2 separate regions of the Homo sapiens genome follow, and region 2 is linked to region 1. The links come from fine-mapping of genetic effects on gene expression. A gene starts in region 1. The other region holds a variant in brackets. All regions are shown on one strand. Distances are from middle to middle.

Region 1 (4,405 bases):
GGAAGTAGGTAGGCAATTCCCAAGAAAAGTTTTTCATATTTTTTAAAAAATCTATGAGCATATAGAAGAGCATATAGAGTAAAGTCAAACACATCTGAATGCAAATTCTATGTGACCCTGTAAAAATTTTTTTACCTCTCTAAACTTTAGTTTTTTTATCTGTAAAATAAAGATAATAACCACATTGTAGGGTGGAAGTAAAAAATATGTAAATGAAAAGATATGTGTACAATGCTTAGCACTACATTGCATGGAAAATATTGAATGAATAATAGGCACAATTTTTTATCTTTTGATTTCTCTTTCAGGTCTACACAAACTCCAGCTGTATACAAAAGACTGCATCTCCAGCTTGTTTTGTCTGAGAGGTCTAGGCATGATATTTTATTAATTGTGGACTATCTCTACTTGAATAGCTTGGAATATACTCAAACTTAAAGTTGAATTCTTCCTTCCCTCCAGATGTGCTTCATTAATTAATTCATTCATTCATTCATCAGCTTCCATACACCTCCTGTTATCGGGCTAAGGTTAGTGGAGCTGATGCAAAGATAGGTATGCATGGCATAATGGCAGGAGGACCTTAGAGGCTAGTGCAGCAGAATAGAAACAGCAGTGCCTGATGATAAGTATATGCCAGCGTGATTTCACTTCCTCTTCTTGCCTGCTCAAATCCCAGGGAGACAGAGTTTATGTGATACTCAACAATGTGATGGGAAACTACCAAGCTCGTAACTTTCAGTAATCCTTTACATCCTCTCACAGCTACTAAATCATGAAGGATGGCTTGAACTCAGGCCCATCTGACTCCAAAATTTATATCCTTAACCCTATTATTTTCTTTAATAGGTAAAACAGAAGCCTCAAAGACATAAAATAAATTTCCCAGGCCCCAGTGTCACACAGTTAATAAGCAACAGAGTTTAGAGTGGAACTCAAATTGAGTACCAAATAAGATTTTTGCTACCACACCTAGATTTTTTCAACAATACTCATTACTGTAACCTGAGTCATGAATGGAAGGCTAAATTAAAGTCCTTATTTTCTAAGACAGAGAACAAAGATATGTGTGACCCATTTAAAAATTATAAGAATCATGACTTGCCCTTATTGAGTTTCACTCTATGCCAGGCACTGTGCTAAGCTCTTTTCAAATACTATGGCTTCAAGTCTTGGAATAATGTTATAAGTATGTTGCCCATGGCCACGTGATCAAAAACGTGGAATTAAAGACCAGGCCTTTCTAAATTTGTTGCTAGTGTCTCACCACCTTGTTCTACTCTCTCCATTTTAGAAAGATCTGCCTACAATTTTTGAAATAAAACCAGTTTTCATACACATAAAGTAAATATTCAAACATATAGAAATTTAATTACTGTGTAGTATCAAATATTTCCTTACTGATATTGACTTTAAAATTACATAAAAGTAGGATGGGTGTACTGACCATCTGTTTCGTCTGTTTGGCACATTCTATACCTGGAAGAAAAACAAAGACAAGGCAATATTAAACTCTGGAAGAACCTAATCTTACTAGAAAAAGAATCTTTGATTTATGCTTTAGCTTTCAGCCTGTCATAAAAATGTAAGTCTCTCTTCACAACTGTGTATCAGCATTGTATCAAAGGTTGAAGCTCTTCACACGTATCTTTAAATTTTTTTTCTTTTTTGGAGTGGGAGTGGAATCTAGTCAAAGAAATGGAAAAGATGCCACGATGAATGAGAATTTTGTCTTAATCTTTTTTACTTCATAACCAGAGCTCAGTAGAGACAGAAGAAATAAGTGAGTCATATTTAGGGAGATGTGCTATTGTGGACAGGTGTAGATGACAGATGTTGGAACAGTGGTTGAAAATTCTAGGGAGGCCAATTTTAACTCAATAATAGAAGAATAGCCCATGGTGCCAAACAATTGATTGTAATGTTTTATGAATAAATGAGTTCCCTGTAAATGGTGACATCAAGTCAAAGCAGAGTCTGGATGATCCTCTCCCTAAAAAATTATACAAAGTATTCTCATGAATAAGCATTTGACTTTAGATGACTGTTAACATCCACTCTACCCCTGAGGTGATGTGATTTAGCAATTCGTTGGTTGAGGCAAAAGATTCATTTTAAAAAGTTTCCCTTATTATTTATGTGATGAATTACATATATCCCAGAATTACATAGGCAGAAGACTGCATGAGCTATTAGTACAAGGGCAGGGGCAGTATTATCAGAGATACTCACTGAACATGGTTGCAAGTGTCAGAGCCAAGAGTAGGACTATGGCTGTTGCTCTCATAGTACTGAAGTGGCCAAGGCAGTCAGATGTAGGGAAAAGAAGTGACCTGGTGTCCGTCCAGCTCACTTTGATCCTGCCTTATATATTTTCAAGAATTCCTGCCTCAATTGTGAAATAGCAATTTCTAAGTAGTACAACTCCAGAAAGAGGTCAGAAATGTCTGCGAGCCATGGGGATTCTTTTCTTGTGAAAGACAGGTAATTGCACATGCCATTTTAATAGCTAGTCCCCAAACCCAGGCTGATGGATGAAGAATGAGATGGTAGCTTTGCTTTGAACTACAATTACGTACATAATCAGTGGCATTTTTCATTTCATACAATAACTTGCAATAGACAAGCCAGCAATCTTTTGGCCATGGTTTAATAAGTTTTAATTGTTCCTTAATTAAACCATGAGTCATTTGAATTCTTTAATAAAGGCTACAAAAGTGCTGATTTTGGAATGGGCTAGGTTTCAGATAGAGTGACTATGAGAAAACTCTGGAAGAAGCTCTTGCAGGTGTTGTAGGTAGAATTGGAGGACACTTTATACTACTAATGGAAGTATTAGTATCTAAGGCTGAATTTCACATTTATTTCCCTTCTAAAGTAAAGAGATAGCTGAAACTTATTCTGGTATGATCTGGGGACAAGATCATCATACTATCTCTGAGAGCTGAAACTTTGGGAATCTTGCACACCTGAACTAATTGCCAGCTACACCACTCTCCATGTGACCTTGTACAAGCTATTTATCCGCTATAAGCCTTGGCTTTTTTTAATCTTCATTTGATCATCTCATAAATATTAATGAGCATTTACTCTGTCTTAGAGACTGTATTTTATCTTGAATATGCCACAGTCCATGAAAAACTGACTGCTCTCATGTAGTTTGAGAAAGACCGTCTTCTTTTTTTTTTTGGAGACAGAGTCTTGCTTTATCACCTAGGCTGGAGTGCAGTGGCGTGATCTCAGCTCACTGCAACCTCTGCCTTCTGTGTTCAAGGGATTTTCCTGACTCAGCCTCCCAAGTAGCTGGGATTACAGGAGCATGCCACCACACCTGGCTAATTTTTGCATTTTTAGTACAGACCGGATTTCACCATATTGGCCAGGCTGGTCTTGAACTCCTGACCTCAAGTGATCTGCCTGCCTTGGCCTCCCAAAGTGCTGCAATTACAGGCATGAACCTCTGTGCCCAACCGAAAGACTCTTATCTTCTTGATCAAACTTATTTAAGGTCCTCTGGACCCTTTTCTTGACTAGGCCTTGGCATTGGCCCTCATTTTGTCTTTGGCCTCCCCAGCTCCCAATTTAGTAAAGAACTTACTAAATTTAGTTTTAGTAAAGAATCCTACTAAATCATAATCATCCCCCCCAATTCTTAATATCTGATCACCCTTGATATCTGATAAAGTTCCTTATCCTCCACCTCTGACATATAATTGCTTAGCCTGCCTTTAGTAAGAATCCTATTAGGTCTTTTTATCAAGAATCCCCCCTACCCTTAATGTCTTCTATTAAGTTTTCTATGCACTGACCCCCTCATTATTCTTCTTGGCTATAAATCCCCACTTGTCCCTGTTGTGTCCAGAGTTGAGCCCAATCTCTCTTTCCTATTATAATAATTCTATTATATTAGAATTAAAGGAATCACCCTGCAAAGGTGATGATAATAGCAATAACAGTAAGCATACTTACTGAGCACATACTATGCCTCGGGTACTAGTGTAACTGCTATAAGTATACTAACTCATTTAAATTTCAAAACAAGTTAATGAGACAAGTATTATTACAATCAAGAATTTAAAAATGAATGAAGTGAGGTACAGAGAAATAAGTTTTTCAAGGTCATAAGAGTAAGTAGTAGTCAGGGAAGAGGTGGGACTAGACTCCTGAGGCAGAGCTTGGACACTGGAACAAATTGGGAACTAGCCAAAACAGGTCCAGAGCATAAGGACTTCTCCATAAGACATGCCTCACAGTATGCCATGTCAGTTTACCATTGCCATGGCAACACCCAGACATTACTGCCCCTTTCCATGGCAATGACCTGACAACCCCATAGTTACCACCTTCATCCTAGAAATTTCTGCATAAGCTGTCCCTGAATTTGCATATAATTAAAAGTGGGTAA
Region 2 (4,405 bases), 110 kb before region 1:
TTTCCTTCTGAGGCCCCACCCTCTTGTCTTGCCAACATTTCCACTTCGTGCTGCTAACTTGCTCTGTCCTGATGCAAATTGCTGTCTAGCTGGAGAGTGGTGGGGGGGCGGGGGTGGGCATGGGGTGGATGAGGGAGGGGACCTAGGGAGGGGCTGGGGAGTGGATATAACTACACTGCCTTTAATATTGTCTTCAAGCAAGAACAAAAATAATGTCTTCTTGGTGCTGTGCTGTCTACCCACTTATCTCTTTGGTATTGGATCTCTCTGGTGAGAAAACGTTGTCACTCCTCTCTTTTTGTCTCTTCACTTTGCTGTGGTCAAAATCTTGTAACATCTAGTCTAGGAAGGAAAAAAAGACTAATGCATTTACCTCTTCTGGCCAAAATTTGTAATCTCTTTTCCATCTAATTTAGAAAACTGAGGCTGAATATTTGGTTTGAAGTCAAACAATTCAGGAATGGATTTGAAGTCCTAAGTATGAACAACGCATTGCTTTGGGCCTTACCCAACACTTAACTTCACCTGTCTCATCTACAAAATAGAGATAATTTCTGAGTTTGTACGATTGTTGTAAGTGCTCCAACATGGGTCATCTGAGGGCCACTGTTAGGATTTTTATCAAATGTGTTCTGCCTGTTCTGTTACCTATTTAATATCCTTATTTAAGTCCATTCAAGTTTTCACTTACCTAAATTTATTTTTGAAGGGAACATTATATCAGTACTCAAAATAGAAAAAAAGGCTAATGAGTTTTAACTAGATGCCAGTGATCAAAGTGCAACCTCTGTTTCTGTGTTTAAAAGGGAGACAAGTGAATGTTGGAGAGTTGTTAGAAATGCCCTACCTCTTGCTTGGGGCTCTTTCAGTTAATTGGGAGGGTCAAAAGAGAATTTACAAAAGAGAAGCTTCCAAGCTTTAGGAGTTATTGTGATTTAGCTACAAGCTGCATTCTACACTTTTGGAAACATGGAGAGAAGGGATAAGAAACTGCATACATTTTTAACTACTGTTACAGTGGATTCAGATTAGGTTTCTCCTTCTTTACCTTTTCTTTCAGTTTGCCCCAGATCTATATCTTTGTTAATAAAAATAATAATAAAATAGCAATAAGAGAAACTGACATTTAATGAGTTTTTTTTTTCTGCTAGGCATTGTGGTCAGTGCTTTATATGAACTATTTCATTTAATCCTTATGAAATCCTTACAAGATTAGAATGAAAATTACCCCCACTTTACAGCTGAGCAAACCTCAGCTAAGACATCTGGCGACTAGCTCAAGGTAGCAGACCTGGGAAGTGTGGATTTGAAATGCAAACCCAGGCAGTCTTATTCTAAATGAGGCCCACAGTCCTAAGCATGTGCAACTGTGGTCATTATGGGGATGTATGTATTCCACCTTCACCTGTTAGACACTGCTAGGAGAGAGCAATGAACAATGTTGCTTAAGAATTTTCCTTTCCACATCAGCCTGGGACCCGAAGAGGAACTCTGGAATGCCTATTCCAGTTTGAACTCTGCCACTCATTTGCTTTCTTGTTTTCCTTTGCTCTTGCTTCCTCTCCCTGAGCCTCAACTTCCATCTTTAAACCATGGAAGACTCTGGTAAATTATTGATCAACAGGAAAGGCCCTCTGCACTGATCTTTTATAGTCTGTCTAGTATTCAGCAACCTGGGATTACTGAATAACCAGCAATAGACTGTGAGAACAAGATGTGAGTCAAAGAAAGCATTGGTCCTTTATATTCCAGGCCATCAGAGAGGCTGCTCATAGTAGGAGTGGCCCCTGAAAAAGGCAGTTTGCCTTCCCCATATTTCTTGGTCGGAACCTGGAACACTATTTGGATATGCTCCCATTGGTCTCATTAAGCATCAGCCTACCATTGCAAGCTTTGTGCAGTTTCTCTGCACTTTTATAAGATCTCTAAGTCTCTCATAACAGTATATAAAGAGGGATTGTTGACTTCATTTTACAGAAGAGGAAAGACTTTGTCAGGGAAAGTGATTTGTCCAAGAACAAGAGCTGATATGAGGCTGAAGTCAGAGGACTGAAAACATTCAGATTTCTCAATTCTAACAAAGTGCTTCCTTCTTAAGTTTATTTTATTTCTAAATATATAAATTATACATTTTTAGACTATATAAATAATAGGTTACATAAATGATGTATTTATGCAATCCATTTCCACTGTAAAAATTTGTTATATATATTAATACATACAAGAAAATACCCCTTGACTCCAACTCAATGCTACCCCCCTCCCCAGAAGTAAATGCTTTTTTCACTTGGCTTATGTAATTCAAATGTAATTTTCTATGCATTTACATATGTATAAATGTACATGTATAACATATGGCTTTTTTTCTTATATGTAAATAAAATGATGTTGGTATATAATAATCTGCTACTTGCGTTTTCAACAGTGTACTCTAAACATCATTTCACATTAACACATATAGTTTTTTTTAGCTGCTGCGTATCCATTTCTTGCTATAGACATTGTATG[G/A]ATTGCAGTGTTCTTTTGCATTCTACCTGCCTCCCATGTGTAAATGGGACATCTCCCGCATCAGAAAATCAGCCTCTGTTTTTCTGGGACTGTGCTAAACATAGCTGGAGTGGTTTCAATTTAAGTGGCAGCAGTAAGTTGACTTGGCAGGTTCCCTATTAGGGCAGGCCCACCCTTATATGGGCCTCCTCTCATTATGAAGGACCAAGAAACTGCCCAAGTTGCACAGGCTTTGGACTCATCCTGCAGGATGTCATCCTTTGACAGCATCCTGCTCCCATCAATTCCTAGATGTGTGCTTTTGAGCAAGTTATGTAACCTTCTAAAACCGAGTTTTCTCACCAGTAAAGTAGGAACATATTGATCATACATTTAAAGTGTTATTGCAGGAGGTATGGAAAGCACTTAGTAATGATCACTTTTAAAAATGCTAGCTTTCATACTGTCATGATTTCCTCTTTCTCAACAGCCTCACCAGTTCTGTTTCCTACTATCCTGGAATATGGTATGAGGAACAGGTTATGGAAAGATGAGTCCAAAAAAACCCCACACAGCACCCGCCCCCCGCCCCCCCCGCCACAAAAAACAAACAAAACCAAACTTGGCTGGGCGCGGTGGCTCACGCTTGTAATCCCATCACTTTGGGAAGCCGAGCGGGTGGATCACCTGAGGTCAGGAGTCTAAGACCAGACTGGTCAACATGGCAAAACCCCGTCTCTACTAACAATACAAAAATTAGCCTGGCATGGTGGCGGGTGCCTATAATCCCAACTACTTGAGAGGCTGAGGCAGGAGAATCGCTTGAACCAGGAGGCAGAGGTTGCAGTAAGCTGAGATCGTGCCACTGCACTCCAGCCTGGGCAACACCCAAACTTCTTTTGATAATAAAAGAAATTATACTGGAAGCAATACTACCTCCACTGGCATCACACTGTCCAGTTTACTGGCGGCTCCTATTGGAAACTAACCACTGCCCTATGGGGTGGGTGGTTATATTATTAGTTGTTACCATTTGACAGAAAAGAAAACTGAGGCTGAAGGGTAGGGGTTCCAACCATCTCCAGCTCTCCCATCAGTTGTTTGAGGAAGTCAAAAACTGAACTCAGGTCTTCAGATTCTACATATGAAGTCCCTGTAAGAATTGTGGTACTAGCTATTATTTAGGGAGACTGTTAGACCTACACACCTGGCAATGAGACACAATTCTCTCACTGATATTAAGTTATATATCATCCATGCAGTATTTTTAAGGCCTTTAAAAAATGTGCCAGGCACTGCACTGCACCAACAGCTGGTGATATAATTAAATGAATGAATAGGATATCTCAGTTCTCTATGGCAGGTGTGGCCAAACCGTGGCCTGGAGGCCAAATCTGGTCTATGAGCCTTCAGGATGGTGTTTTACTTTAGTAAATGGCTGTGGAAAAAGTTTTATTTTGTGACGTGAAAATTACATGAAATTGAAATTTGTGTCCATAAAGTTTTATTGCAACACAGCCATGCCCATTCGTTTATATCGTCTATGACTTTCACAATAGTTGTGCAGTTGCCACAGAGAATGTGGCCCATTGAGCCTAAAATATTTACCATTTGGACCTATATAGTTTGCTGACCCTTGCTGTAGAGCAATCACTCTCCAGCCCTTCGTATTATATATATATTCAGAGTGACTATCGTAGTTGGCATCTTCCAGATTTTTTTTCAGCTATTCCAGTCTTAGCAACTTTTGAATGATTTTAGCGCTGCCAGCTGTACTTCCACTGATCTAACAGTTTAGGTTAGGTTAGACAAAGACATGACTAAGCCAAAAATTACAAAGCAGCGGCCTCTTGTGGCTAATGTAAGCATTACTTAGATAATTTGGTTAACAGGTTACAGTGAAAACCTAGAGTTAGAT

Alleles and levels. Alleles are on the strand shown, and positions count from the first base shown. SD is a standard deviation of normalised expression in the study named.
With allele G in place of A in region 2, the expression in putamen of the gene that starts at base 2,342 in region 1 is lower (moderate effect, 0.71 SD a copy in GTEx).

What was found. PIP is the estimated chance that this variant, and not a neighbour inherited with it, causes the effect.
Region 2: its variant is the best candidate, but not a certain one, in a credible set for the expression of SPINK9 in putamen (GTEx, PIP 0.87).

Annotation. Positions count from the first base shown.
Region 1 is chr5:148,333,496-148,337,900 of GRCh38, reverse strand. SPINK9 (serine peptidase inhibitor Kazal type 9) reads right to left here and starts at 2,342. Exons shown (of 4, transcript NM_001040433.2): 1 at 2,233-2,342; 2 at 1,448-1,479. The coding sequence starts at 2,287. All of the region lies in intron 2 of FBXO38-DT (FBXO38 divergent transcript), which reads left to right.
Region 2 is chr5:148,444,036-148,448,440 of GRCh38, reverse strand. No RefSeq gene overlaps it. Among named protein-coding and RNA genes, the nearest start is that of FBXO38, 62 kb to the right of the region's middle. The variant G/A (reference allele first, on the strand shown) is at 2,509.